Linked DNA regions of Homo sapiens: all the other regions are linked to region 2. The links come from fine-mapping of genetic effects on gene expression. A gene starts in region 2. Each other region holds a variant in brackets. All regions are shown on one strand. Distances are from middle to middle. Region 1 overlaps WWC3 (WWC family member 3). Region 2 holds the start of WWC3 (WWC family member 3). Region 3 overlaps WWC3 (WWC family member 3).

Region 1 (11,176 bases), 71 kb before region 2:
GCCGAGACGGGAGGATCGCTCGAGGCCAGGAGTTTGAGACCAGCATGGCCAACACGGTGAGACCCTGTCTCTACTAAAAATATAAAAATTAGCCAGGCATGATGGTGCGCACCTGTGGTCCCAGCTACTCTAGAAGCTGAGGTGAGAGGATGGCTTGAGCCTGGGAGGTCAAGGCTACAGTGAGCCATTTTTGTGCTATTGTACTCAAGCCTAGGTGACAGAGATCCTGTCTCCAAAAAAAAAAAGAAAAGTATACAGGAGGACTGTGCAGGTTATATGCAAATACTACACCATTTTATATAAGGGACTTGACCATCCAATGATTTTGGTATCCTGAGGGATGGGGGTGTGTCTTGGAACCAATCCCCCAAGGATACAGAGGGATGACTATATACGTACTTAAATACAGTGGGGGGTGCGTATGTATGTATGCATGTGTGTGTGTGTGTGTATTATATACACATATATGTTATATATACAATAACTATATAACATGTAATACATAAGTATATTAAAAACATCTTAAAATAAAACACATGAGCAGGCAGGCAGCTTACATGCATCAGGTCCCGCCTCTCCTTCTCGCCTGTGCAAATGGCCTTCTTGATGGTCCGGAGCTCACTCATGATAGCCTGCGCCTCATCCAGTTTGTAGCTGGTGTGAGTACTTGACATCTTCCGATCAATCCTAGTTAAAACAGAAAAATCAATGTCATTTCACATGAGATCCTAGCATTCCATTAAACATACAACTACGAAAACCCAAAAGCTTCATAGAGAGGTGGAAACAGTTAAAGTAATGTTTTGGCTAAGAAAAAGAAAGACCCCACGGAAGCGTCCCTCCTTCTGGTCGATACAACACCCTTTGCTCAGGAGCACCCTGGGCAGGTGAAGACGTCCGAGACAGGATGCCCACGTCCTCCGCTAATGATTGCGCAACAAGATTGCTTGCTTGAGTAATTTCCCGAGACTGTAAATTCCTCTCTCTGAAAAGAGGACATGTTTTGTTTATCTCCAGGTTAGTGGTCAAAATCTTTGTTAAATAAACATATGAATGAGATCTGTGTACAGGGAGAATATATGGGACACAGCAAGAAGTAGTGAGCTTTCGATAATGGTGCTTTGTACAAAAGCTGGAAACCTTTTCTGTCTCCTATAACTCTGATTTCATTCTGGTTCTAATTTATTACTCACTCTTTCTCCTACCAAGTCCTCAATTCTTTCCTTCAATCCAAACACTCATCCAGGGAAAATGGCAATGTCCCTCCCTCCCTCCTTCCTCCCCTTCCTCCCACCTTTCCTCCAAGCTTCCATCCTCCCAGCCAGCTCCTGTACACACCAGGCCTGGGTCTGGGGCTGGACGCAGAGCACAGAACAAAACAAGACTTGGTTCTGCCTTCAAAGGGAGGTGGCCTCTGGAGCATGTCCTTTGTCACATCCCCTACACCTGAGGCTCCAGCATGGGAAGCCCTAAGGCTAAGGAACTTGAGAAATTTTGGTCCAGAGTGGAATGAATTCCTTCTCTGGAAAGCAACTGGCTTCTTTCAGGTTCCGAGTCTCCCAGTTCACAGGTTCTGGTTCTAACATTTCCCTCCATGTTATCCTGAAAACCTGGATCATTAACTGCCAGCCCCAACTCCCTTGCTTACCGCTCACAGGAACCTCTGGCATGCTGGTGGGTGCGAGTGGCACCCAGCTCTGCCACTCACTGGCTGTGGGACCTGGGTGAGTCACTTCCCCTCTTTCCACCTGCTTCTTCCTGTCTCAAATGGGGACACTAAAAATATTTCTCCCATGGGATGGGCATGAGATTTAATGAGAAAATGCAAGGTAAGAGCTTGCTTGGCAGGAGGCCTGGCATATGGTGTTTGCGGTGACTGTTATTATCAGGATAACACAGAATCTCCTTACTCATGGGAGAAAAAGTAAATAACTTGCCAACTCTGGTGTTTTATTATCATTAACAAATTCCTTGCCAAATATGTCACAACTCAAGCAAAACTCGGCACCAGAGTCAACCTGAGCTATCAGCATCCATGGCCTAGGAAGAGGGCAAACAACACAAGCAGGAAGCCATTGACTCCCTTTGAATAGGGCTCTGGGGCTCGGCAGCATTGCTGTGATTGCCATCAGCTACAAATAAAATATTTATAAACACTAGTCCTGAGTTCTGCCCCGAGGAGAGCAGATAGAGGCACACCGTGCATGGTGAATAATGACACTCCTAAATGCCAACGTGTCCTGACCCTGCAGGCACTTCCATAATGGCTGTTACAGACTTGTAGGTTTCTCAAATACACATTGCCTTGTCTGTTCCTACAAAGCAGAAGTCTTTATTTATACATCTTTATTAAAAGGTACACGTATCTTTAACTATAGAGTATTCCATGCCAAAAGTTAAAATAAGTGAGCATGAACTAAAGTTTGAGCTGTGGGCATATTTTTTCTTTTTATTCTGCTCTCATTAAATCCCTTCTTTCACAAAACAGTTCATCCAAATGATCAAGGTGGTAAACTTTAACAGTCTACATCACCTGAGGGTCCTCGGGAGATTTGGCAATAAAATAGAAAAAGTTCCCAGCACAGTACCAGCAGGCCAGTTGGTGGCTACTAAAACGTGGGAGCCAATAGCAAGAATGGTGACAGTAGGCATATAAACCCATTGTACATTTTCAAAACTCTTTTGTTTGTCCCTCAAAACCAGCCCCACTTCCATCAAAATGGCTGGCCTTCTCACTCACTGCTCGTAACTCACTGGGATATTCATGGAAGGGCTACCTTATACTTTCTTAGCTGTCATAGCTTCACAACACCTCCATTTTTTCAATTGTGATCCATTTTCATCCAACAAAAACTTCAAAGGACAGTAAATGTCTTCTTTTACTTCTGTAAAATTCATTTATTTGAGAGCACACTCTCTCTCTCTAAAACTTCCCTAAAAAACTTTGGTCCAATGTAGATGATGTGCTCAATGATTTGGTATTTTTTAAAAATATTGATGTATTCCAGTTCGTTTAAAAAATCATAAGATCTGTGACTGCCAAAGAACTGCCTTATTCTGGTCTTAATTTTAATTAAGAGTGCAAGACAGTGCCTTTACCATACATCACAAATAAAATGATAGAAAAGGTAACTGCTCAAGGAGACTAAACAAGGACATGAGTTATTATGCAGTATGAAATCAAAATTCAGTGCACAGACTCACAGTCTTTACTTTTGCACCCTCTACATTTTGCATTCAGCTTCAGGGACGTTAAGTGATTTGCTGAGGGTCACACAGCCAGTAACAGGCAAAGTGAAGTTCACAGCCAAGGCCCCCCACACCAGGACTTGTCTGCTCCATCACCAGGTTCGCAATATATTCAAAGTCAAGGCCTCTAAATGCCCATTGTGTCAAACCTGAAGGCCACCCATATAACCAGTCAAATGTCATCCCAAAGTAAACTGGTGCTCTTTATGGTGTGCTTTTGAAAGAAATGGGCTGGAGAGAAAAGAAGAAGATACAGCTTCAGATGAGGAACCTAGTACAATGGAAAAGGCATTTTAGAGATGTTTATTGTCAACCTCTACCTCCTGCCACCCTAAAATTTCCATATTGGTTGTTCAATTTAAGATGTCAAGAGAACTGCACTAGGAAAAATAAGAGTAAAACCACATAACTTCTTAACCCCACATCTTGAAGGAAAGAGCTGCCAGCCCTCTAAAGATATTCTGTGTTAATACCACAGATTACAACCCAGAAGAATGGAAAGGTTTGTTACAACTTCTACATTTTCTATCAGCAGCTCTGGCAGACGGCCTTGGGTGAACCTCAGAAAGCTTCCGGCGGCTTTCTATCAACAGCAAGACCTGTGTGGAACACCAGACCTGTCCCACAACCAGGAACAATCCTCTTTTTGTTTCCAGCCCATTTCTGTACGTTTCGCTGTTGTTATCTGAGCATTGCCGAGGTTTTCGCGTGGGCTGTTCCTTAGGTGCTACGCTAATGGGAGATTGTTACTTTAAGCCTGTTCTACTGAACAATCCCACTCTTTCTTGAAACTACTAAATCCCTTCAGACAGAAAATGCTAATTCTAATATGCAGTAATGCTTCATTCTGGTATTGCATGCTTAGAAGGATGTAGTGGCTCATATTTAAGGAGACAAATGGGTTTCACCCCATTTGGGAAGTTAATCAAGAAATCAAAAGTCTTGAAGCAGAGGCTCACCTAGTGGCTAAGAATGTACCTCATGGAAACTAGTTAGTGGAACATCTGGTGAGCATCCCTTTCTGTGATTTGAATAGCAGTGATAATAGGACTTCTTAAAACCCAGGCCAAAACAATATCACACAAAATGCAGAAGAGAATGCTGTGCTAGAGGACAGTTGGCAAGAAGGTGACTGGACAATGTCTAGAGGCCTCCCTGAGTTCCTCCAGCCCAGGGACAAAAGTTTTGGCCAAGGAAACATCTGCCCTCACTCAGAGTGTCCCAGTGTCCGAGAAAGAAGTGGACCCTGTGATGGCTACTAGCGGGCAGGAACAGCAACCTCAGCCACTCCCCCCAGCACCCGGGCAATCTGCATTCACTCCCAAGCCCCACCCTGTGCTGAGAACTGGCTGGGTCCTCAGGATGAAGCGGCGAACAAAGCCAAGTCCTTGTCTTCGTGCAGCACGATTCGAGCCAAGGAGACAGACAATGAAAAGTACATCCTTAGGTCAGGCAGTCACAAATGTTTTCAAAAAAAAATGAAGCAGTTTGGGGATAGAGTGTGACAGAGTACATTTTTAGATGGATGGTTAAGCCAGGATCTCTCGAGATGTCACTAAGCAAAGGCCCACGGAAGTGGGGGAGCAGGCATGTGAGAATCTGGGGGAAAGAGCATTCCAAGCAGAGGGAGCTCCAAGTACCCACGGTAAAGGCAGGACATCCCTTTCAAAGGTGAAACTAGAGGTAAATGAGGCAGGGCCGGGGGCCAGCCTATGTAGAGTCTGGCTTGTGTTGTAGGTGAGAGAGAGCCACAGAAGGACCACAAGGAGAGCACTAGCTGTGGAAGAACCCCATGGCTACTGTGTGAGGATGGAGACTCACATTAGTGCTTGGCCCAGAGCCGTGGTGGTGGAAGCTGTGAGAAGGATCAGAGGCCGGGTGTAGAAACAGCACACCATGGACAAGGTGGCCAGGCAGTGTTACCCAAAAGCATCTTCTGCCATCAAGCCAGTGCTCAGGGACATTATAGGTATCATGGCAGGAAAAGGCTCTAATAACACGAGCAGGAAACTCAGGGAAGGGCAATGTTAAATGAGCTTCCCAGCTGCAGGACCACTCAGAATCTAACATAAGGGGCCGGGTGCAGTGGCTCACGCCTGTAATCTCAGCACTGTGGGAGGCCGAGACGGGCAGATGGCTTGAGTCCAGAAGTTCGAGACCAGCCTGGGCAACATGGTGAAACCCCGTCTCTACTAAAAAAATATAAAAATTAGCTGGGCATGGTGGTGTGCACCTGTAGTCCTAGCTACTCAGGAGGCTGAGGCATGAGAATCGCTTGAACCCGGGAGGCAGAGGTTGCAGTGAGCCAAGATCGTGCCACTGCACTCCAGCCTGGGCCACAGAGTGAGACTCCATCTCAAAAAAAAAAAAAAAAAAAAAAAATCTAACACAAGGTACATTCTAGAGCTCCAGGCAGGAGCTGGAGAGGGGAATTTGCCCACATCTGTTGGTGCACTTGGTCCGTTCACGCACATCACCCAGTTGGGAAACATTGCACGTGTCCTGGTCCTGAGTCTTCCCTTTGCCTCTGGACACTAGTAGTAAGTTACAGTAAGGTAATTTTTCCAAAACGTTTCAGAAACTTTAGGGCAACAGAGTCCAGGGGACCTTTCACTGGAAAAGCTCAATTTTTCTCTAAACTTTAATTAGTCATTGTAAATGGTGCTCCTATTTTCTGAAGACTTTTATAAAAGGCCTCAAGAAAAATGCAAATTGAAACTACACTGAGATACTATCTCTCACCTATGAGACTGGCAAAAATGCAAATGCTTATCAACACATCCTGTTGGCAAAGTCACAGGAAACGAGAACACTCATATGTTAGTGGTAGGAAGGCAAAATGGTGCAACCCCTCAGCAAAGGAATTTGGCCATATCTAATA[C/T]AAGCTGAGTATCCCTAATCTGAAAATCTGAAATCCAAAGTGCTTCAAAATCTGAAACTTTTTAAGCATTGACATGACACCCAAAGAAAATGACCAGTGAAGCATTTCAGGTTTCAGATTTTTGGATGAGGGATATTGAACCAGTAAGTATAATGCAAATATTCCAAACCAAAAAAAAAAAAAAAAAAAAAAAAAAAAAAAAAAAAACTGAAATTCAAAACACTTCTGGTCCTAAGCATTTCAGATAAGAAATACAACCTATAATACAACAAATACATTCACCCTTTAACCTACCAAGCCCGCTTTCAGGAACTTATCCTGGAAGATACACATCCATAACTTAGGTAAAAAGCTGACAAGAAATGTTATTAATATAAATCAAAGCATTGGGCTAACAAGGCCAGAACCTACTGATCATCTTCACACCGCAAAAAGAAACAAGCACAGAGTGGTGCCTCCTGATGGAAGTAACACCACCACCTAAAAACATTCTTACTAAAAAAAGAAAAGAAATCCAACTTGAATCAGATCAAGCCTCTCAAACTATTACGCCCATTTGCATAAATAACAAGAGACAGAGGAACACGTTCAATGACATCATGTGAATTTCAGCAGCAAAACCCAACATTAGGGAAATTCTATAGGACAACCAAATTACTTTCTCCAACAAATAAGCTGTCAGGGGAAAAAAAGGAGGGAGAGTAGAAAAGAAAAGACGTAAGAGACACATCAACCAAAGGCACTCTGTGGCCCAAACTGGACCCAAACACCTGAAGAAATGCAAGAGCTCACTGGACACAAGATGCCTAGTAAATGGGGTACAGGGATTAGAGTTATTTTCAAAAGGAGTCCATAACTTTAGGAGACATATTTATGGATTAAATGGGATTCTGGCATTTGCTTCAATAAGGCCGTGAGAGCTTAGCAGATGGGGTGGGGTCACCACCGAAACAAGATTGGCAATTGTGCAGGTTAAATGGGGTGAGGGGTACAGGAAGGTTTCAGTATACTATTCTCTCTGCTTTTGTGTTTGATATTTTCCATCATTAAAAGCTTACATGTGTACACTTCACATAGATACACATAAAACACACATCTGTGTACATATTCTATCATTAACCCAGCGAACATATCTGTGGCCAATTCCTCTCTACAACAATCAACAACATATATAGATTTAAAGTAAAATACAAAAGGTTCTTTTTTCCTTACTTGGACCCAAGTGTAATGATGAATTTCCTTGCTAGCCAGGAAATTCACCAAGATAAACAAGGCAAGCTTAAAATGTTATAAGCAGCCAAACTCCTAGTGAGGTGCTCTGGAAAAGAATACACTGGATATTCTGGGAAGCAAGAACAGCAGGAAATTTTCTGGAGGAAAATCTCAGGCCACTGCCTTAAGCAATGTTGGTGATAAAATCAGAGATGCTTCATGTTTAGGTATAACAGCTCACCTGCTATCTGTACGTATAGTCAGGATTTCCCAGTAGAGATGGGGTAATCACATTTTCAATGCTTGAAAAGGCCTTCTAAAATTTCTCAATTAAAAAAATATACATTTGCATGATTCAATCCAAACCTAAACACCCAATGTTCAATACCAGAAAAATAATGAGGCTGTTTTCATCTCATAAGCTGTGGAACTCAGAGAAAGGCTACCAGATTATCTTCCACTTACAAAAATATTTTAAGAGTGGCACGGGTGCCTGGGTTTTCTCTTCTTCCTGTGAGGCTGTGTCTGTCCCAGAATAAAGTAAACATGCACAGTAACAACGCAGCGTCAGACAGAGCCAAGGCAACGTGCCCATTAAACAACAGCTCTGGGCAGCTCCCTCCTGAAAGCTAACTTGCCCCTGGTCAGGCATGAGGTGGGGTGGGCCCCTCAGGACCAAGGCCAGGTCCAGAGCCTTCCCCAGGCCACTCCTTGGCCTCCAGGGGGAGGGCGGGTATTCTCATGAGCTCAGGCAGACAGGAGGAGCCTCCCCTTGGCAAGTGGCAAGTTTACAATTGCTGTTCCCAAGCGTGGGATCTTGATAATGAAAGCAGAAAGACAATCCAAACAGCACTGGCCCGCCTCTCTTCCAGGAGCACAACTTGCGCTCCGTTTTGGCCGCAGGTGTTAAGTTAAAATTCTCGTTATTCTGGCTCCTGCTTCTCTGTCTAATGCCCCTAGGGAAACAGAGGCTGCCTTTTCCTATTCTTGAAACCACTGCAACTACAAAAGATGAATTCACATCCTAGCCATGCTAAGGAGAAGGGGGTTTTCTCAGTCAGCAGTACGTTTCAGTTTCTAAATCAGTCCATCTACAGCTGACACTGCTATATGGCCTTTGTCTTCAAATAAGGAAATGGAGTTCACCAGAACGATGGAGCCAAGGCAAAGCAACGGGCGCTGAGCCCAGCAACCCACTACAGAAACCATGGCCATGAGGGAAGTGCCAGACGTGGCTCCCTGCTGATGCTCAGGGATCCTGAGCAAACTCAGACTCTTCCTGAACCCCAGTCACCTTCCTCAGAGCTGCAAATGAGAATGACATTAACTGCAACCTCCGGCACACACAATGACTAACATTAAAACCACCTACTGGGCCGGGCGTGGTGGCTCATGCCTGTAATCCCAGCACTTTGGGAGGCTGAGGCAGGCGGATCACCTGAGGTCAGGAGTTCGAGACCAGCCTGACCAACATGGTGAAACCCGGTCTCTACTAAAAATATAAAAATTAGCTGGGCATGGTGGCGTGTGCCTGTAATCCCAGCTACTTGGGAGGCTAAGACAGGAGAACTGCTTGAACCCAGGAAATGGAGGTTACAGCGAGCCAAGATTGCACCACTGCACTCCAGCCTGGGTGACAAAGACTCCCCATCTCAAAAAAAAACCAAAAAAAAACAAACAACTACATATTGTCCAGAGACACTGTATCACAATGAGAGACAGCTACAGTGTGGCCTAATGAAGGTAGAAAATTCACCTCAAATCCAACTAGGTAGTCCTAATAACTTTTGGTGACCTGTCACAAATCAAATGATTTGTTTCTGCTTATTCTTTATCCACCACCTTAGCCAAAGTGACACAGGATGACACTGCCACAGCACACACAGTCGCATCTGAGGAGGTGTTGGAGTATCTGGAGGCTGGCTGGAGTGGGGGGCTAAAAGGACAAAACACACGTCGGTGCATTTGGAAAGCACTCTGGCCTATGCACCGCATGAATGACAAAACCAGCAGCCGGTTAGTTGGAAAAGAAGCTTGATTTGCTTAAGACAAAACTAAAGAAGAGGCCGGGAACGGTGGCTCATGCCTGTAATCCCAGCACTCTGGGAGGCCGAGGCGGGCAGATCGCCTGAGGTCAGGAGTTGGAAACCAGCCTGGCAAATGTGGCAAAACCCCATCTCTACTAAAATACAAAAATTAGCCAGGCGTGGTGGCGGGCACCTGTAATCCCAGTTACTGGGGAGACTGAGGCACGAGAATCACTTGAACCTGGGAGGGGGAGGTTGCAGTGAGCCAAGATCACACCACTGCACTCCAGCCTGGGCGACGAGAGCAAGACTCTGTCTTAAAAAAAAAAAAAAAAAAAGCTAAAGAAGAAGCTGTGCTAATACTAACTAGGGTTAATAAAAGGAAGCTCTGACTGTAGATCCAAAATGCACACAAACACATAGCTGGGTAATGGTAGATAATTACATCTGTACCTCACATTCCTTTATTACCTCCCCATAAAGAGCAGTGCTGCAGTCACGTGTGTCACCTCATGCATCTGCATGCAGGATGAAAGACGGCAACATGGTGCCCACCTGCGTCAGTAACAGTAACCACACAGAGTTGGACTAATTGTTTCGGGCTGGGCATGTACCAGGTGCTGGTGCTGTCCTCAGTATAACTGAGCACAGTGATTGCTGTTATGGACTGTGTGTTTGTGTGTCCTCCAAATTCTTATGTTGCAGCCTTACCCTCTAATGTGATGGCATTTGAAGGTGGGGCCTTTGGGAGGTGATTAGGGTTAGATGAGGTCACAGGGTGGGACCCCATGATGGGATTAGGAAAAGGAAGAGAGAACAGAGTTTTTGCTCTCTTAGCCATGAGAGGAAACTGCGACAAGATGGTCATCTGCATATCAGGAATCGGGCCCTCACCAGGAACCAAATATTGGACCTCCAGCCTCCAGAACTGTGAGAAACAAATATCTGCTATTCAAGTCACCCAGTCTATGGTATTTGTCATAGCAGCCCGAGCTGCCTAAAACAATCACCATTTGCAGATGAGAAAAGTAGGTGCAGAAGGCGTGCGGCACATGCGCAAGTTCAGCAAGGAAAGCCAGTGAATGGAGAGAACGGCTCAGCAAACCTTCAGACCCACACCAGCACCATTTCTCAAACACCACCTTTAGTTCATGAAACCTGCAGACTCGATACAGCTCACTAATTGTAAACAATTCATCCCCAATCTCTTAGTAGGGATAACGTTCTTATTGTAAAAATGAGAACAGGAGGAAGACCTACAGACTGGAATGTCCAAAGGAGCTTTCCGTGATGATGGAAATCTGTCACCTATGGTGTTCAATACAGTAGCCACCAGCACGGTGGTTCTCCACTGGGAGCAAATGTGTACTTTAGGGGACACTTGGCAATGTCTAGAAACATTATTGGTTGTCACAATACAGGTGGAAGGTGCTACTGGCATCTAGCGGGTAAAGAGTAAAGACAACATTCTTTGTGTTTTTGTTTGTTTGTTTGTTTTTGAGAGACAGTCTCGCTCTGTCGCCCAAGCTGGAGTGCAATGGCGCAATCTCGGCTCACTGCAACTTCGGCCTCCCAGGTTCAAGCGATTCTCCCTGCCTCAGCCTCCCGAATAGCTGGGATGACAGGTGCCCGCCAAGCGATTCTTGTGCCTCAGCCTCCCGAGTAGCTGGGATTACAGGCATGCACCACCACGCCTGGCTAATGTTTGTCTTTTTAGTAGAGATGGGGTTTCACCATGTTGGCCAGGCTGGTCTTGAACTCCTGACCTCAGGTGATCTGCCCGCCTTGGCCTCCCAAAGTGTTGGGA
Region 2 (11,176 bases):
AAGCCTACCGTAGGCTCACCAGATGACCATGAACATGTTCCTGACCCATGGGCTCCTGAAGTAGAACCTAACTAGAGATGGTGATACGTGTTATTTCCACTTCCCAAATCAGAGTGAAAGGAAGGAGAAGGAAACTTGGAGATTTCCAAACATCCAGGAGCTATTTTTGGAAATGAATTACTTTTCCTTTCACTTTTCTTTAAAAAATAAATAAATGAATAAATAAATAAACAAATAAATGGAAGGAAAGGAAAAGACCAAAAAATGTTAGACCAAAAAATGAGGATTGATGATCTAAATGGAAGCAAGAGCCGCTTCTTCCAGGGACTGACCCCTTACAGCCTTAAAAACAAGATGCTCCCCCATGTTCATACAAACACTATCTATAACCTTAAAAAAAGAAAAAGGGAGAAATCATTACCTGTTTATCAGAAAGCTCAACCAGGACAGTTTATATAGTCCAAAAATAGACTCTGTGGGATGAATATAGTAAACCTCCTATTAGTTAATACTGAATAACTAAATAAAGGTTCCAAGAAGGTAGCAATGATGTTATTTGGCTGTTAAATGGGGATCCAACCTAGCAAATTCCAGAGCTATGGATTGTTTTCCTCTTAAAGCAAAAGCATCTTCAGAAGACTTTTAAGATACCACAGAATTCCTCCATGAAGCACAGGTCAAATCCCATCTGGTGAACAAATGGGTCCCCAAAAGCTTATGCCATGACATGATCTTGCTCTTCCGCCATCCGCATGATTATTTATACTTTGATCTCAAATATGGTATCGTCCACCATACTTAAGCTGCCCAGAGCTGGCATTTCCAGTACCGTACAACTCCACCTGAGCTACAGGAAATGGAACATGAGGTTTCAAACACTCAGTCCATCTATAGGATAATACCCAAATAACCCTGCAAGACACACACGTAAACACAACTGTCAAAGACAGTGAATCTTTACAAAGGGGGCAAAAATGTTCTTCCCATATTTTCTGCCCAATGGTAAATACCTTTTCATAAGGTGGTCAAGTTATTCTGAGTTAATATATTCAGTTAAGATATTAGTGTGCCACTAATGTAAACCACACAAGACTCATGTAAGGAAACTACCAGCCATAGAAATAAGTTAACTTTGTAGTTTGTTTTTTCGTTTCTTTTTTTTTTTGGTGTGGGGTTTTGTTTCGTTTTTTGAGACAAGGTCTCACTCTGTCACCCAGGCTGGAGTGCAGTGGCATGACCACGGCTCACTGCAGCCTGGATCTCCCCAGCTCAAGCAATCCTCCCATTTCAGCCTCCTGAGTAGCTGGGACTATAGGCGCACGCTACCCCGCCCACGTAATTATTTTATTTGTTTGTAGAGACAGAGTCTCCCTATGTTGCCCAGGTTCGTCTCGAACTCCTGGACTCAAGCAATCTTGCCCCCTGGGCCTCCCAAAGTGCTGGGATTACAGGCATGAACCACCACGCCTGGCCTAACTTTGTAGTTTTTAACCAAGTTCTTGGGTATGATTCCCAGTAAACTAACTATGAAAATTATATGTACAGTATCAATCTATAGAAATAGTGAATTTAAAGTGAAGGTAGGTTTTTTCGTTTGTTTTTTGAGACAGAGTCTCTCTCTGTCACCCAGGCTGAAGTGCAGTGGCGCGATCTCGGCTCACTGCAACCTCCACCTCCAGGGTTCAAGTGATTCTGCTGCCTCAGCCTCCCAAGTAGCTAAGACTACAGGCGCACACCACTACGTCCGGCTAATTTTTGTGTTTTTAGTAGAGACAGGGTTTCACCACGTTGGCCAGGCTGGTCTTGAACTGACCTCAAGTGATCCACCCACCTCAGCCTCCCAAAGTGCTGGGATTACAGGCATGAGCAACCACGCCCAGCCAACCAAAGGTAGGCTTATAATCAAACTAAAAAATTGTTTTTAAAATATTGAGATTGTGTATACATCTGTAGCCACATCCGTAAAGACGTCTCCTTGTATCTTCTTTGTTGTAACTTTAAAAAGCAGTTACAATAATTTCACCAACAGGCTCTGAGCCGGCACTATCAAATGTTAAACACAACACTGAATGGAATTACTATAAAACTCAAGAAGAGATTTTGTTTACAATCCTTGGACCATATTTTATGCTATACAGTTTTTACTAAAGTTTATATGAAATTATGTTTAAAGTCAACAACAATTTTCACTTAACCTACTACATTCATTTATTCCACCACAATTTCATTTTCTTAAAGAGAAAAAAAAAGCTATTATGTATTTGCCTTTCTCCTGTCAGGTCTCTATGTGGAAGCTGTTTGGTGAAAGTCCTCGTATTTCTTGAATACCATTTTCCTGTGTGACTCAAAAGCAACTCAAAAAGGGTTTTAACTGTCAGATGCGCATGGAGAAAACACTGCCCTCTGACATGCAGTTCTTCCCATATAATAAAAGTTAATTACAACTTTAAAGGGTAACCCGCCACCTATAAAACTCGGCCAGGTTCTGTTTTGAAAGAGGAAGAAGAATGACTATTACAGCCTTCAGCCGACTCCACTTAAATGTTTGTGGCTTGCTGAACATTCCATACATATTTCGGGCAAGGTATTATGGGAGCTGAAGTTCAAGCTGTCCCCTGCTGAATTTTCACTCACTATAAAAACAACGTCTCATAAAAGTACACACGTTTTTACTTTACAAAAAAAAGGTAAAATATCCACTTTTGTTGACTCAATTGACAATTTTAGCATCAGAACGGAGACTTTTTAAAAACCTTTAAGTGATTGTCTGAAAAGTAACAAATCGATTTCTGGAAAAAAGGAATATAGGAAATGTGTCTGAAATACATGGAAAACAAGATTCTCCAAGCTGATTTCTGTATGGTCCATTCACGTTTGTCACAGGTTACACCATTAAAAAGAAAATCCTCACATTGATATCTTTCAGCATGAATCTCCACTCCAATATAACCACAACTGTTTTATATTACCCTTGGAAAGTGAGCCTTAGCCTTTTCTAAGCAAAACACTATTTTAATTGGTTCATTTTCCAGTTGTTTGGGTTTTTAACATACATATGGTATAAAAGGGCACTGCATTCCAAGCAGTTCTACCAATTCCAGAACCATCCAAGGGTTGATCAAACAGCTGGGGCTCTAGCCTTTGGTTAAAATTATAACATGATCTCACCTGATTTTCAAAATAACTAGGCATCTTTTTAACCCATAAAATTGTACTAGGATTGATATAGGTTTCTGAGCCCAGAGGTTTGCAATGTTCAGCGAGAATGTTAGGGAATCACGATCTTTTTGTTTTGCTTTCTTTTGTTTTCCCCTGCTTGAACTCAGAGAAATCTTCAAACAATTCAGCAGCTTCTCTCCTCAAAAGTTTATTTTCAGACGCCAGTGCCATGCAGGCCGCCTTCCCTGTGCAGGTAGGAGGAAGCAGGCACAATGTCACCACACTGGGCCTTTGCAAGTCTTCAAATCACTGGGAAGCCTGTGGTGTTTCCTTTTTGGCACTCAGGCCCTGGAAGGAGAGTTGCTCTAGAGAGGACAAGACATCAGATAACCTGTGGAAACACTTGATGTCCACAGAAATCCCAATTCCACACAAAATACATCTCTGTAAAAGCAGTTGAACAATCGAAACCCGTAGACAATCGAGCAAAAAGTTAAGGAAGAGCTTCGTTACATGGAATTAATTAAATGAAATCTGATAGTGCTTTTACAAGAATCAGTTTTTACTTGATTGGGTTTTTATACGTGAATAAGACAGCTTTGTACCCCATGCATATCTTTCACAAAAAGGAAACTTAAAATACAATTCTTGTTTTTCGTTTATTCCAAAAGCATATGGGACTAATCATATTGCATTCTGGCTGCAGTACAGAAGGCTATTTCAAACAGTTTTAACTCACGAGTTTTAAGGCGCTAAAGAGCAACTAGAGTTTGGGAACAGACTTCTCCAACTCCAAAAGGGTTGGGAATCCCTCAAGGGCCCGTCTGACATCAGGTTTTGGATGGAAACCAGCCTGAACCCGCCAGACAGGGAACCCGCACCCCAAAGCTGGGGCGCACGTTTGTGATCCAAGGTGACAGCTCATCTCGCCACCGCGGGGCTGGGGACACCTGCAGAACCAGGGCCGGGGCAGTGGGCCGCAGACGCCCGGGACCGGGATGGGCGAGGCTGCCGCAGAGAAAGGAAAAGAGGGCCATCTGTCAGCCCCAGGAGAGGAAATTCCAGGAGCCCAGTTCCCAGGCGCCGGACAGCGGGTGACGTGAGGGAACCGAATGAGAGGGTCCGCCCAGCGGCGGGGGACCTGTAGGCGGCCGGCCTCGGCGCTCAGAGGGCTCGAGGCCTGGAGAAGGGGCACCTCCATTCTTGGTCAGAGCCCTGGGAGTCGGGGTATTGGGAGGGTGGATCCTCTCCCGGACCCCCGGAACCAAAGATCTTCACCCAGCCCCGAGGGCCTCCTGGTGTCTCCGATCCTCTCCCTGGGCCCAAGGGATGGGGGCGCCTCGATCGTAGCCTGGACCGGAGCACTCCAGGGAGTCCCCTGGTTCCGGGGATGGAGGCGCTCCGAGCTCTGCCCGGGCCCGGGGGCTCTCGGCGGCGGCCCCGCGCTGGGCGGGGCGTGTCCCCAGCGCATCCGCGGTGGCGCCGGCCGGCGGCCCGGGTCGTAGCGCCCGCGCCGGGTCTGGCGCCCCCAGCCGGCCCGCTTACCGGTCGCGGGGGTCGATCCACGACGTCTGGCGCGTGTTGTGGTCAATGTAAAAGACGCGACCGTCGTAGTCTCGCGCCTCCTCCCAGCCGGCGGGCAGCGGCAGCTCGGCGCTCTCCCGGGCCCGCGGCGGCGGCGCGGAAGGAGCTGGGGGCGTGGGGACCGCGGCGGGGGGCGCCGGCGGCGCGGTTCCCGCTGGGGCTGCGCAGAAGGCGGCGGCTCCCGCGGGGCCTCGCGCGGCTGTCCCCGCCGTCGCCGCCGGCCGCCGCTCAGCCAAGGCATGACGGCGCGGGCCCCGCCGCCGCCCGGCCGCCCCGCGCGCGCCGCCTCCTCCGCCAGCACTAAGGCCCGGCGCCCGGGGCGCGGGGGCGGCCGCGGGGAGCCGCCCGCCGCTCCTGGCGCATCCTCCGCCCGGCGCCCGTGCACCGGCGTCCGCCCGCCCGCCCTAGCAAGCCGCTGCCCGCGCCGCCCACTCCGTTCAGGTAGCCCGGGTGGCCGCCGCGCGCGAAGTCACAGCCCGGGAGCCGCCGCCGCCGCCGCCGCCGCTGCCGGCCGCCCCTCCGTTCCCGCGGCGCGCCCGGCCATCTTCGTTCCTCGGCGCGGCCCGGGCGAGCAGGGGCAGGGCGTTCGCAGGCCCCGCCTCCGGCCGTCCCGCCCCGTTCTCACCCAGGCCCCGCGGCTCCTCCCACGCCGGCGGCTCCACCCACGCCGGCTGCTCCTCCCGAATCTCCCACGGAGGCTCCCGCTCCTCCCGCCGCCTCTGCTTTTCCACCCACTCCCGCTGCTCCGCCTCCCCCGGCCCCGCGTCCTCCGCGCCTCTCCGTCGCCGGCTGCTCCGCCCCCAGTCTCCCTCGGGGTCCTCCTCGGCGCTCGGCTCCTCGACCCCACCCCCACCCCTCCGCTTGCTCCTCCCCCTCCGCCGTCCTCCCTCTCCGCGCGCTCCTCGCTCTCTCCCTCCCGCTCCGCCACCTTCCTCCGGCCTCGGGAAACCGCATGGAGGCCAGGATGGGCGCCGCCGCGTCAGTCCGCCCCCGGGCCCCCGCGTAGAGGAAGGCGGGCGGGGAGGACGACGCCCTACCCGGACTGCGGGCGCGGCCTGCCTGGGGTGACTCCTCGGGCGCAAACAATTCCCGAGAGAGCGGGCAGTGCCCTCCCTTCACCCGCTCCCGGGCTCTGGCTGTCTGGAGACCCTCTGCGCACTTGGCGGGAGGCTGCGCCCTCGGTCTCCCACACAACCCGTCTGGTCCCGCGAAGGTGGGAAAAGCCCCTGAAGGCGGGGCCGAGGGAGCTGAGGAGCTGGGGGAGCCCGCGGCCGGTCCTCTCGGGCGGCGCAGGGAGGACGCCTCTGGAAGCGGGCAGCTGGGCAGGTGGCCACTTTGCGTCCCCGCCAGGACAGCCCTAGAAGGGCTAACCTGGGGGCCCACACTAGGCGGGAGTTCCTTGACCTTCCCTGAGCGCTTCATCCGGTTTGTGGGGTCTGATCGTTTGAGCGGAGACCCAAGTAGACCATTGCTGGGGAGGAAGCCGGGTCAACTCCTAAAACTTTCAGCCTAGACGGGAACTTCTGTTTCACTGGCTCCCAGCTGGGGAAGCTGAAGCTCCAGAGTTGGGGCTGTGTCTTGCTCTAAATCTCCCACCTACTTCGTGCCCCAGACCCACAGCCGCAACACGTTATGCCAGGAAATGCAGGACAGTATCAGGGAGATTTTTAAACAGTTACAGTGATACAAAAATATCTGGTAGAGCCTGATTGAAATCCAGATACACAGGGGAAGAGACTGGAGGAAAATGTCCTGAAATGCTCACAAGAGTTTGCATTCCTTTGGCGGGATTTTTAAAAATGATTTGCCTTCCAATTTTTTGTAAAATGGTAATATTACTTTTATGAGGGGAAAGGTTGTTTTAAAAAAGAAGAATGGGCCGGGCGCGGTGGCTCACGCTTGTAATCCTAGCACTTTGGGAGGCCCAGGCGGGCGGATCACGAGGTCAGGAGTTCGAGACGAGCCTGGCCAGCATGGTGAAATCCCCGTCTCTACTAAAAATACAAAAATTAGCCGGGCATGGTGGCGCACGCCTGTAATCCCAGCTACTCGGGAGGCTGAGGCAGGAGAACTGCTTGAACCTGGGAGGTTGCAGTGAGCTGAGATCGCGCCACTGCACTCCAGCCTGGACGACAGAGTGAGACTCCATCTCAACAACAACAAAAAAAAAATTAGAAGAATGTGGGGCCGGGCTCGGTGGCTCACACCTTTAATCCCAACACTTTGGGAGGCTGAGGTGGGAGGATCACTTGAGCCAGGGAGGTCGAGGCTGCAGTGAGCCGTGTTTGCACGATTGCACTCCAGGCTGGGCGATGGAACAGAGACCCTGTCTCAAAAAAAAAAAAAAAAAAAAAAAAAGAAGAAGAAGAAGAAGAAGAATGTGAAGTTGTGAAGGTATAGCGACGTCCAAAAAACTATCCAAGGAAGGTCTTTCCTCTCCCTCCTCCTACTACAACACAGAAACTTTCTTGCTCCCCAAGTATCTATCTACCCCTACCTGAATGTTCTATGTGAGAAATTCCACCGCATGAGTCCTTTTAAACATGTGTGATTATTACATGTCCAAGGGAAAGAGTGGGAGGGTCAAAAAAGCACATATTTTGTGATGTCGCATGTGCCAGGGAATGCCCCAAGTGCTGAGTGTCCCTGCTCTGACATCTTCCCTTCCGATTGGCATGATTTATCGCCAGTGGGGCTGCCACTGCCTTCTTACCTTACCACCCAACATGGCCGTTCTGAAGCTGCATTTCCACCCTCCCTGTCACCTGGTCCTTTTAGAATCTCACAAATCTGGACACAAATCTATCACTCGAAAGTACTTTGAATGGGGCTGGGGCGTATTGGAGTGAAACCGACTTCTGCAGAGAGAGAGTGGAAAGAGGAGAACACATACACCACACATCAAAGGACTCAGAAGGAAAGGCAAGATGAAAAAAGCATCAGGTAGAGCAAGGAGTGGGGGAAACTGCATCCAATTAGGAGCTCAAAGAGGCCAGCGCCGAGGAGTCTTCACTGAAGGTGAAAGATTTCTACCCGTTCAGGCGGGCAGCAAATAGTGGACCTCCCACGCGCAGACACTGTGCTGCGTGTAGGCATGCTGCAGGGAAGAGGATAGTCTGTGCTTCAGCTTGCACTCCCTTGGGGACTAAACATAGAAATAGGCCCTTGTAATACAATTGTCACTTGTCAACAAATGAAGCCAGGGTGCCAACCTCAATTTGGGGACTCGTGGGAGGCTTTGTGAGACCAAAGGGAAGGTGCCTCAGATGAGGAAACTGAGGCTCAGATGTTCAGATTCCCAAGTTCTGAGCTCTTGCCCCTTGGCACATGGAGCTGCTGTCATGAAATTGTTTACTTGTATAGCAGATGCTGGGGCGGGCTCCCTTCTTTTGGAGTATTGTGAAGATGACCCTTCATTAACACAGATGTCTGAGAGATTACACCCAGCCCCAGGAGCTGACCGTCCAGTTTCCTTGCCTTGGTGACACAAACTCGAATGCCCTTGACACCCCAGAGCTCCCCATGGGATCCCCCATGGGATCAGGCTGAGGCTGTACTTCTCTGGAAATCATAGCTTTGCCAGCTCCTCCCCTGCCCGGTCCCGCCTCCCTTACTCGTGTAAGCATGCCTCCAATCAGCCGCTCACTCGAGAACCCCCGTCTCAGGCACCCTTTCTAAAGAGCCTGACCTAAGATAGGCTCCTGCACACTTACTGTCATCTAAGCACTTAGCAAATACGAGCTCATTTAATCACCAAAACATCTAGAGGCATTCCTACTTTCATTTGCACATTAATAGAGGCAAAAGAAGTGTGACACAGCATGCCAGAGAAGAGAGATTGGAGACCCTCACTGAGAAAACTTCATCCACATGCCCAGCCACTGCCTCTGGACACTCTCTGCCTGAGAGAACAGAAGTGGGGCTATTGCATTTGTCTTCCTAAAAGGAGCTGAACCAGAGAGGAAGAGGCCAGCGCTTGGGGTGACCAAGACCTCTTTATTACACCATTAGTCCTTTTCCACTTGTGTGCAATGTTAGCCCCAGGCGTTTGCTGATGGTCCCTAAAGACTTGTGAATGGAGATGGAAAGGAAGAGAAATTGGTAGGGGTGTGAAGGGACTCTTGACTTCCCAGCTTTGCCATAAATTGGGATCGATCTCTCTCTCTCTCTCTCTCTCTCTCTGTCTCTCTCTCTCTTTGTGTGTGTGTGTGTGCGTGTGTGTGCGTGTGTGTGTGTGTGAATTGTTAGAATAAGGCCTGTCTTTCTTACAGTCAAGTGGGGCTTTCCACATCGGACTAAAAACCACACACACACACAAAACACTGCAGGGCGAAGGAGTCTTGAGTCCTAACTGAATGCACAATTCTACATTCTTTATTTCCTCCGCATTAAAACCACAGCCGGGCCAACAGCAAAAGCACGAACATTGTGTAGTGCTCCATCCTCCCACCAAGACTTCACATGGAAAAGCAGCTCAGGAAAAATCCACTTAGTCTCTGGGGAAAGGAGATGCAAATGCTTTTGTTCTCCTCCCAGACCCTCTGGGAAATCCCCTTTCTGAAGCTGTTACAATGCACTGATCTCTAACTTGCAGAATACTTTCCTTAAAATGATGGTTAAGGAGTAACTCCAACAAGGACAGAGTCTGAAGATTTTTACTATCAGATTCTGCCTTCTCTCCCCAGCCCTCGCCTAAAGGATAAGCTTTATTTGTAAAAAGGAAAGTGCAAAATTGGATCCATACACATTCAGTACTTGATAAGCGTCTAGAAAAGGAAAATCTGTAAAGGCTACAATCATCAAGTGTAAAATGAGAAAAATAAACACCGCCAGAGAAGTCTTGCCTACCTTGTATAAACAATCAAGTGTTCTAGGAAGCGACACATTGGGTAATTCTACACATTGTGCTAAGAGGAAAACGGAAATGGGCCGGATTAGGTCTGAAGAAGAAATGGTTCATTGTTTGGCATTCTTTAAATGCTAGAATAATTACTCAATTATGGGTGTTTCTCATATATTTAAATAATGCAAATCCACAAGCACTGGAGGAGATTAGATGTTGTTCTTGTTCATTCCTGTCTTGCTGGTTTAGGGGCATCAAAGGAAGGGTAAATTGCAAAGATCCCTAAGGGGACCCTCCCCAGGCTCAGGAGTTGGAATGGGGACAGGGTGAGGTTATTTCTTGGTGTTTTATTTCATGGCTTTATGTAAAGACGTAAACTTTAGACACTTATTTGACTTGTATTAAAAAAAGTCACTGTTTAGATTTCGTGTGTGGACGGGGGGCACTTTTCTCAACTGGGACTTCCTTGATTTGTGTAGATGCGTCCATTTTGAAAATTCAGGTTTTTCTCATGTCCTAATCTTCCACTCCAAAGACAGGCAGGGTATTCCCAAAGCGTCCACTGTGTGGATAAACCTGCCAGTCTGCGTTTGGTTCATTTTAGCGCTTAATTCCCGTGTCTGGATGCGCATCACAAAACAACATCATCCTTGGAATCAGTGAATGGCTGTCATGCTTTAAGCACGTTGCATTTGTGCCTGGGTGATTAAAATTCAGATTTTTTAAAAATGTAGACCAATTTCTCTCCCAAACTTAGAAAACTCAGAGCCACTCACTTCCTTCGTCTCCAGGTCTCCTCTTCCAGCCTTACACTTTTACTTATTTTCCTCCCCTTCCCATGGGTTCTGTTCCACAAAATGTGAAGGGGCCAATTCAAAATGTATTCTAAGCACACCATAATTTTAGGAAGAGGCAGCAGCCGTGAGCCAGCACACTACAAGATACTTCCTCCTGGCTGGCTTCTCTCTTATTTAGGATTAGAGCTCTGGTCCCCTGTGTATTTGGAAAAACAGATCCTTAAAACTACAGACCTCTGCTTTATGAGCCAGGCAGAGCAGCTCAGAAGTCTCAGGCTTGCAGAGACAAGAAGGAAAATTTATCTCACTCAGAAATGAGCAATCTTTGTTTTTCATTTGGTGACACTAGCATTAAAATTAGCCTCTCTTGTAACATGAATGGAACCATTTCTGGACACAGGTAACCAAGATGATTGTTATATAATCAGTGACTCAACTGGGGGGGCGGGTGATGGTGTCCCCCAGGGGACATTTGGCAATGCCTGGAGACATGTTTGCTTGGCACAACTGGGAGACTGGGGTTCCTGGCATTTAGTGGGTAAGGCCAGAGATGCTGGCACACATCCTGCAGTGCCCACAACAGCCCAGCACCAGAGAATGATCTGCCCCAAATGACACCAGTGCTGAGGTCAAAAAAACCCTATGAGATATGTATAATGTATTGTTATTATTTTTTTGAGACAGGGCCTCACTCTGTTATCCAGGCTGGAGTGCAGTGCTGCGATCACGGCTCTCTGCAGCCTCCAACTCCCAGGCTCAAGTGATTCTCCCACCTCAGTCTCCTGAGTAGCTG
Region 3 (9,362 bases), 91 kb before region 2:
GATAGCCACAGAGAAACTGCTGTTAAGTGTGGAAGGCAGGCCCAGCCTTTGACACAATCTGCAGTCTCACACAGCAAATGGAAACCAGGACACACGGCACACGAGGAAAGGCTGAACGACTCAGTGCCACCGAATACCAAAGCCACTATGCTGGCTTTGCATGTCCTGCGTGGTGAAGGAGCCTCAGGACAGACGCACGACAGGTGGCCAGCTTCCCAATGCCAGAGAAGAGCAGGCTCTCCTGGCTAGAAATCAAAGTTGGAGAGGAAAGCAGTAGGTGGATACCCACCATGCTCACCACGTCAGGAACAGGGAATTCTTCCCCCATGCAACAGAGCTGCCCGGGCCGGAGCGGGACCACAGCCTGCTCAGGGCACTGTCCCACAAAGGCAGGTGGAAGCACCAAGCACCAACTTCAGGAAGGGTGGGGCGTGGGCGGAGATGGAGGTCACCCATCTTCCCTCACTCCTTCCCCCTTGTCAATCACCTCCTGCTTCGGAGCAGAGGCTCCAGAGACCCAGGGAGCAGAAGGCAGTGCCCCCCACCGCATGCCCCTCCTAGGCCAGGGAACATCCAGGCAGGAGAGGCTCTGAGTGATCATCAGGAACACCCTCCAGCCACACACAAGCCACCCCGTGGAGTTTTTCCAGCAGGCTTTCCGCTGGAGGTCGTGTCCCCGCTGACCCACCTCTCCGTGGCGCCCTGTGCGGAGGTGGCCCGTGCACGCCGCAGCTCCTCCTCTAGGCGCTCCCGCTCCTCCTCCAGCCGGGCCACATCTCCCGCAGAGCGGCGCTGTGCAATGATGAGCTGAAGCTCCTGCAGCAGGGCCTCCTTCTCCTTGATGAGCTGCAGCCGGTCCCTGTCAGCCTCGGCCGTGCTTGGCCAGGACTCATTGTCAAGCCGGGCCAGCTGCTGCTGGATGTTGGCGACTCTGCAAGAGAGACGGGGAGGAAAAAAGGACATCGGCGGACTGAAAACGCCGTCTTCACACCTTCTCCACGTCTCACACTGATTCTATAAACTCCTTTTGCCAAATAAGTAGTGAAATGATTACACCAAGTGACCCTTACACTTAAAAGGATATGGAAACAATGTCCTAAAAAATGGTGCAGAAGTCTTTTCCTGAAGCTCCCTTAGCCTGAGATTCGAGATGAAAATAACCCCATCGTGCCTGTTCCGAAGAACTGACAAAAAGGCCAGCAGCCCTCAACATGCCCATACTCGGCGGCTCAGACTCCTGGTTTCCTACATGAAACTGTCCCAGAGCAGGAGGGAGTCTGCTTGTTTCTTCTGCCCACCCTCATCAGTAGCTAAACAGCATGCTGGACCCCCAGAAGTGCTGCCGGCCTCCCGCCTCCTCAGCTGTGTCTAACCACTGTCAGCCGCTTTAGCAAAATAACAAAGGAGAAATGCACTCATCATCTGGCGTCCTGAAGGAAAGACCTTCGAAGCCCCATGCTCCGCGTCTTCTGGTTCTGTGTGCTCCTTCCTGCACCAGAGCCCCTGGCCATACATGAATTCAAAACACCTTGCGGAGAGCAAGTGGGCACTCGACAAAAGCTGAGTGCATTGAACAGTGAACAAACACGCCTGCAAATATGTGAGAGGAAGAGAGGCAGCCCTGTGAGCATGGATGCTGGTGAGAGATGATCTGGGTGGATGCAAAGCGCAACAATCCTCAAGGTGGAAAAACAGAGGCTCCTATCAGTTTCCATGCCTCGAAATTTCCAAGTGCTTGCTTGGCAAACAGACTGCATTACTTTTTGTGTCATGAGGTGCTGTTGAATGCAGATTAAGTGAAACAGATGTGGCCTGTATTTTTAAAGCATCCTTTAAAAGTAAGAGTAGAATGTTTTAAGCCCTTTAAGTAGGGTTAAAGATCAGGGATATGTTTCTAGGGAGAAACTAGGAATGGCAAACTCAACCTGAACCCCATGCTGTGGAGGACATAGTTGGCATACTCGCCCAAAAACAAAATCCAGAGGCTTCTCTGAGATCACAAAGAGCTGTGAGAACAGGGAAGTGGCAGGCACACGTGGCCCTATATCCTCCGAGGGAGATGCAGGGCAGAGGTGCTCCTGAGACTGCCTCCTCCTGTGCCCGCGGTCCACGGCACTAACCAAGGCTGGCTTCCCACCTGCTGGGTCTAGACCTCAGAAGCCTTCTCTACACTATGAGCCATGTGGATATCCCCAATTGACTAGCATTGCCACACATGTTAAAACCTGCCACCCAGCCTTGTGCCAAGTCAGGCTCCACCTAAACTAGACACGAGCACATGGACTCATGAGGATCGGGCATGACTCCCTCTCTAGCCACCAAACGAATCTGAAAGCCCACAGTTAAGGAAAGAAACGGGTACACAAGTTACAGTTTAAATGTATGCATTTTACTCAAGTCCACTTCAACAAGGTAAAGACACTAGTTGAATGTCAGTAGCTTTATTAGACAAGTTATTTTCTAACTTAAAACTAATGTCTGGAAAACGTGTTGGAAGATGGTGCCAAACCATGTCACCAGAAAAACTAATGACAGAGGCAGCTGAACAGGGCTAGGACTCCAACTGGGCTTAAGCATCCACCTACGTCTAATTAGTGTAATTAAAATTTATGGCAGTCATATATCCAAAGCCCAAGGAAAATACACTCCAAGCAAACCCACAAATAAGTCAGTGCTAAATCAGACATTATACCCAATGACATTTCTGGAACATTCTACAGTAGACCAAGACAAGTTAAGAAATAAATATAAAAGATGAAGAACAATCAGCAAATCTGTGTCCTCATACTTTTTTTCATTTCCATTTATCTGATCCACAGGAAAGTCTGAGCCCAGCTAAATTTTGCCCGACCATTTTATACTCATACTAATTACCATACATATAATATAAACAGAAGTATTTTACAGAACACTCCTTTTGAGTTTTCTGAGCCTTAAATATGAAGAGATCAAGATTCCATTTGAGTCTGCCAGCTCTAGGTTAGCTGCTAGCCTACAAGGATTCAAGCTGTTGAAGGTGGCGGAAGATCCAATTCCAGATAATCACAACCTTTCCAGGAAAATCTCAAGTAATATGCACTGTCAGGAAAAAAAGAATGAGGAAAAAAATGAATTATAGGAGGGAGGAGAGGCAAAGGGTGAGTTTCAAAAGACCTGTCTGCTGCAGGCATAAAGAAACAGAACAGCAGCCCAAATTAAACCATGTCCTGTCACTTCCCACAGCTGGCAGGAAAAATATGCAAGGACAAACGGCAAGGGACGACCTCTCCAGCAGAAACAAAATCTGCAACCCATCTGGAAATGTTTGGGCTGTGCTGAATGCTAGGCAAACATTTCTGTGCCTTCCAATTGTGGGGTTTAATAATAAAATTTCAAAACAATGCAACAATGCAAACAATCTCATCTTCATTTCAGAGCTATATATGAATCTAGAAGAAACTGGAACATATTGAAAAGTTCAATTTCTTTCTTTGTCCCCATGTTCTAGGTGTGAACATTTGGGGCCTGCTTCAGCAAGGTCGAGAGAGGCACATCTGTCTGTCTGTCTGTACTGGAAGCCAAAAGCACTAGGATTCCTTCAACAATCGATTGTTCTTATGTCCCCATGAGACAGACAAGACGGCTTTGCCTTTAAAACCGTATGACTTGTCTACCTTGCCGTGGGCCGGAAACGAGCCATCTGCAGGGAGTATCTTTAGTACGTTAGGTTTACTTGAAGAAACAGACTTCC[T/C]GCCTAAGGCTAAACACAGATGTACTGAGTTTCAATGCACCTTCTTCTACATCCACGCCAAACAGCTGATCCACTGGTTGGAGCCTCGCTCCTGTGAGTGCTGTTGTTCCAATTTTGGGTATTAAAGGAAAAACAATTTCCAGAAAGGCTTTTCTTTGAAATATCATTTCAGTGAAATTAAATACATGGAAGTAAAGCAAGGTCATGGTTAAAGTTTGCAAAACAAAATAACTTTCCCGAGTTTTTTGTAAAGAGAACTAATAGCAGCTTAAAATTAGAGAGGATTTTTTTTTTTTTCTGTGAGCCAACTATATTCTTCAGTGATTTTTATTTTTGAGGGGTAATGCATTTTATGGCCTATATAAAATCTCTCCCAAATGCCTTTAAAAGCCTTAAAATATATGCCCCCGTGTCCTGATAGTGAAGAAAGCAAATGTTCAATCAAGCATGCAGGTTTCTTATTTATTATGTGTTTCCCAAATTCTATTCCCTGAGCAGGTCTAATGTAGACAGACATAAAATATGAATCATTTTTCCCTTATGATTTTTGCTCAAACACTTTTCTGTTACAACCCAGGCACCATTAAACCATGCATTTATGCCGCAGAAACTATTTAGACTCTCACAATTCACATGAAAATCTTAAATACGATTTGCATTTTTATAGGAAAACAATGCACTTTCAATAATAAAAAGTTCTGAGGCATATCAAGAATAATCCCTAATTATTTGAATTTATACCAAAAATCTGCAGTCTACAATATCATTTCTCATGGTCCTAAAATCCTGCTGCTTTCTGGAATAGCAAGCAGAACTCTGGACAGCCCACGGTCCTATCCCATGGTGATGAGTCGTGAGGGATCCCAATGGCACATTCCAGGACGCGGGGTCAGCTTAGAGCCTCATACCTTCAGATTGCAATTACGGCTACAGGTTCGATACTCCTTACATTTTCTCTTAGTTTTCTTGTTGTAAATACCCATTTAAATAAAAAGCAAAGGTTAAAGAAAACAGCTGAGATGTAAGTCAGATGGACAATGAAATCACTTCAGCTGATTGAACTAAACCAGCGTCCATTCTACTCAACTCTTTATGTCAGAAGTTTGAGAAGTCTGAATCTAGAATATGTGGGATAAGAAAGGTCTACTAATACACCAATATCTCACCCCGTCCTCAGCTTCCCAGCCCTGACATCTTCTCCCTTTGCAACAGACAGATCTTCAGAGAGCAACTTCATCAAATAAAAAGCAGTGAGTCTACAGGCTTCTCCGTGTTGACCAGAATAGGGAAGACAGAGCCACAGTGGCAAAGATGCTTTTCCTTATTTCTCACAACTGTGCCCCACCCCTAAAACCCAGATAGGAAGTCATTTGAGAAATGAAAAAATCCAAGTGATTGATCAAATTCAACTGGAATCATAACACTACACTGATCCTCGACAACTGATGAACAGCAGGACTGATCCTGGCAACAAAAACTAAGAGGCAGAGAAACTGGATGGACCGAATGTTTTGTTCCTATCTGGACTGAGAGTGTTTCTATGGTAACAGCTACAGTTTGTGCACAGTTCTGGAACAAGCGCCCTTAAGTTAAAAATAAGGAGCCATCTGCGTCATCGGGATTGCTTCAAGAAGACTTGCTCTTTCAACTTCACTTTTAAAATTTCTGAAATTTTAAAATCAATAGTGTGAATATTCCTATCATTAGGTCTGCCTTGGGAATCCGAAGAGGCGCTCCTGAGGCAAGGTGCAAGCAGTCCTTTTGGTACGCTTCACAGGACCCACAGTTAAAAACACAAAACTAGTCATCATGATAGTGGTCGTTTGGCCAGAGAATTCTCTAGAAATCACATCACCACTCAGAATTATGAGTTCCACTTCCACAAACTTCCTTTAAATCTGAATATATATGAAATCCAGCTGAGTGGGGTGGCTCACACCTGTAATCCCAGTACTTTGGAAGGCTGAGGTGGGTGGATCACTTGAGGTCAGGAGTTCGAGACCAGCCTTGGCCAACATGGTGAAACCCCGTCTCTACTAAAAATACAAAAATTAGCCAGGCATGGTGGCACGTGCCTGTAATCCCAGCTACTCAGGAGGCTGAGACACAAGAATCGCTTAAACCCAGGAGGCAGAGGTTGTAGTGAGTCAAGATCACGCCACTGTACTCCAGCACTCCAGCACTCCAGCACTCCAGCCTGGGTGACAGAGCGAGACCCTGTCTTCAAAAAAAAAAAAAAAAAAAGGAAAGAAAAAAAATCTGAATGTATATATATATATGAAATCCCTCATTGTCCAGAATTCGGCATTTTTGACAATTTCCCACATCTTAAAAATAATCTCAAATATATATGTGCAAGGAAAGACGTCCAAAATGCCTAAGGCATAAAATCCTCCACTGTTCAGAAGTGGCAAAGCACAGGAGGTTCTGCAGAGGATATACATGATGGTTTACTTTGTGTGTCAACTTGCCTGGGCTAAAGCTTGCCCAGATAGCTGGTACAAACATTATCTCTGAGTGTGTCTGGGAAGGAATTTCTGGAAGAGATAAGCATTTGAATCAGTGGACTGAGCAAAGAAGATCCACCCTCACCAATGTGGGTGGGCACCATCCAATTCATTGAGGGACTGAATAGAGCAAAAGGGTGGAGGAAGGGTGAATTCTGTCTGTCTTCTTGAGCTGGGACATCCACCTTCTGCCCTCAGACACCAAAGCTCCTGGTTCTCAGGCCTTCAGACTCTGGGACTTACACTATGACCACCCACCCACCCACCCCACTCCACACCCCACCCCACCCCCAGTTCTCAGGCCTTCAGACTTGGACTGAATGAGACCACTGGCTTTCCTGGGTCTCCGGCTTGCAGATGGTGGGACTTCCTGGCCTCCATAATTGCGTGAGCCAATTCCTATAATAAAATAATCTCTCTCCCTTCTCTTCCCTACCCCTACTCTTGTTGGTTCTGTTTCTCTGCAGAACCTAATACAGTAGGGAAGGTAAGCTTGCAGGGTGAAATGATTTCAGGAATGAGAGCTGGGAGATTAATGTCCAACGGCGAAGTAGCAGAACGAAAAGACGACACTGAATTGTGGCACTAATCTAATAGAAGTTCACCTGGGCAAGAGGAAAGGGCACATGATGTCCCTTAGGCTTGGAATGAGGGAGCAGGGAAGAACGCATTATTCTTTGCTAACACTGCCACTAAGAGCAACGTGTTCTTTTTCATGCTTTGGTGGGTTGATGGGGGTACATGATGCCTTCCTGCTCATGGCACACCACTTCTCCAGGGACGCTCACAGGGATATCAGAGACATTATCTCCCAGCCTGATCAAGGGGGCCGAGGAAGAGACCATGGACGGGACCTCAAAGCCACCATGCTTTGCCTGTGGTACTCAGCACCTGGCTCCTGGAATGTTAATGTTGAGTTCTTGCCAGAGAACCACTTGCCACTGCTCTCTCCCCAAGTCTGTATCGTTCTACTCTCGTGCCTCACTTAGAGGCAGTCCATCAGAACACTCGGAAAACACCATTGTAATGAAATCGCTCATCTGGTGCTGGGGAGACCTGATAACATCAACCCTTCCTAGCCTTCCATCTGTCTACAGGGATGGGGCAGAGGGGAGCCAAGACTATCCTGACAACGCTACAAGGTATGTAAAGTCTAGGGCCTTGCCCAGGCTGCTAAGGGTTATGTGACCTACAGCTGAGTAGTTCACATGGCAGGCATGCACTTACTGGTCAAGCCTTAGCTACAGTAACCAATGTGGAATGACTGGAGGCAGAAACAATCACACCAAGGGGACTGGAGACGTGCACCGCCGCATCTGGGAACCAGAGCCCGGAGGGAGCTGCAATCAATGACTCAGCGAACTGCAATCTCCACTGCGGACTCCACCGACAAGAACACTTCATGGATGTTTCTCAGCAGCTTCAAGTCCACTGAAAACACCAAACTCATGGTCAAAACCAAGATCTGCCTTTCAAATGACCCTCCACTTTACTGTGAGCCTCTGGAAACCCTGTTTAGGGTCATCCTTCTCCTTTAATTCCAGGGAGAGCACCATCTCAGTCACACTTCCCCCAGGCCAGTCCAATTTAAGAAAGGGGATGTGCTGATGGCAACAATTTAGGACTGCCAGCTTGTTATTTTGCCAAGTAAAGACTTTTGGAAAAAACCAATTCACATCAATGATCATCATTAGTTAATTAAGAGAAAGATGTTTTAACAGAAAAAAATATATATGAAAAAATGTATATTAAACACGTATTATAAATATAATATATAAAAATATACAATAAATATGTATTAAATATATATAAAACATATATTAATTATATATATTTATATGTATGTATGTACATATGTATGTATCTCTGAGAATGAGAGGCTTCTTTGACTGGAAAGCAGCGAGTTGGCTTTAGGAACACCTGCCGCTGGCCCTCCTTTTTCCCATGCACTGTGGACTAAGGACACCTCAGGCTGGGCTTGGGAAGCAGAGGCCTGCCTGTCGGCCAACGGTACCACCCCCTTTTCGTTCCTTCACAGCCACTGGGCCCGTGGACATAAGTGTCTTCTCAGGTGTACTTCCTCTTCTTGTTTCCTCCAGCCCCAGCCATCCCCTCTCGGACCTTTTACTACACCCCTCTGGCCAGTCTCGTCCTCGCCAGGCCTTTGATTGGACTTCCTCAGGCTCAGTCCTGGCATCTCCTCTTTTCTCCCTGTGTTCCATCTCCCAAGGTGAGCCCAGCTGCTCGGTGACTTCATCTCTATGCCATCTGGGTTCCTCAAATGGCCCTCCTCCACATACCACCATCTGAATGGCTCACACTTAATCTTTCCAACTCAAACGTCCCAGCATGCCCAGCAATTCTGACCCCTCTTCGGGGCATCGTGGCCCCCATGCCGTGGCCTGCCTCCCTGCTCATGCATCCTCCATTCCAGCCTGGCTGGCCTTTGCTCTGCAATTCCAGGCCAGTCCAGCTGCTGCAGAGTGACACCTTACCCCCACTCCTGACCCCCACTCTTACCTGAGAAAGCCCATCCCCAATGGACGGCGACTGGAATCCCAGCACTCCTTCAGGACCCAACTCCAATGCCATTTTCTCCAACCCCCAAGGAGAGGATTAATTATGGAGTTCAAAGGCTAGTAGCCCTTTTGAATGTCCATGAAGGCCCAGAACTGTTAGTCTAGCTCGGTGTGTTGACGTATCACACCTTGAACATAGTCCTTGAAAGGGAGAGACAGTTCCTTGCCTACCTCAGATCCCTAAAGGCACCCATGTCTTGAAGCCCTTTCCCTTCTCAAGTCAAGGCGAGAGACCCCAAGGCTCACACCTGGATGGAGGTTTGAGGAAGGGACCCAGGAGCAGAGCAGTTGGCCTGGAGCTGACCTGGCCCCGGGACTGCCCTGGCTTGCCCCGTCCCAGGGGCAAAGGCCAAATAGCAAATGCAACCACACGGGACCCTCATTTACTCATTCAATAAATATTCACCAAGTATGTAGCTGCTGGGCTTACAGCAATGACCTACAATCCCTGCACTCATGAGGGTTATTTACATTTTCACAGGGAGAGACAGGCAGTAAGAAAAGTAAACACTGGTTAGGTAATAACATTTGCTCAGCCAATCAGGG

Evidence for each region. PIP is the estimated chance that this variant, and not a neighbour inherited with it, causes the effect.
Region 1: its variant is the best candidate, but not a certain one, in a credible set for the expression of WWC3 in whole blood (TOPMed, PIP 0.71).
Region 3: its variant is the best candidate, but not a certain one, in a credible set for the expression of WWC3 in whole blood (TOPMed, PIP 0.69).

Annotation. Positions count from the first base shown.
Region 1 is chrX:10,080,282-10,091,457 of GRCh38, reverse strand. It overlaps WWC3 (WWC family member 3), which reads right to left. Exons shown (of 24, transcript NM_015691.5): 7 at 558-687. Among named protein-coding and RNA genes, the nearest start is that of WWC3, 71 kb to the right of the region's middle. RefSeq lists an enhancer at 8,072-8,572. The variant C/T (reference allele first, on the strand shown) is at 6,131.
Region 2 is chrX:10,009,387-10,020,562 of GRCh38, reverse strand. It overlaps WWC3 (WWC family member 3), which reads right to left and starts at 5,309. Exons shown (of 24, transcript NM_015691.5): 1 at 4,890-5,309; 2 at 4,705-4,887. The coding sequence starts at 4,984. RefSeq lists silencers at 5,337-5,396, 5,437-5,606 and enhancers at 5,427-6,310, 6,311-7,194.
Region 3 is chrX:10,101,347-10,110,708 of GRCh38, reverse strand. WWC3 (WWC family member 3) reads right to left here. Exons shown (of 24, transcript NM_015691.5): 10 at 689-931. Among named protein-coding and RNA genes, the nearest start is that of CLCN4, 51 kb to the left of the region's middle. RefSeq lists enhancers at 1-572, 573-1,290. The variant T/C (reference allele first, on the strand shown) is at 3,731.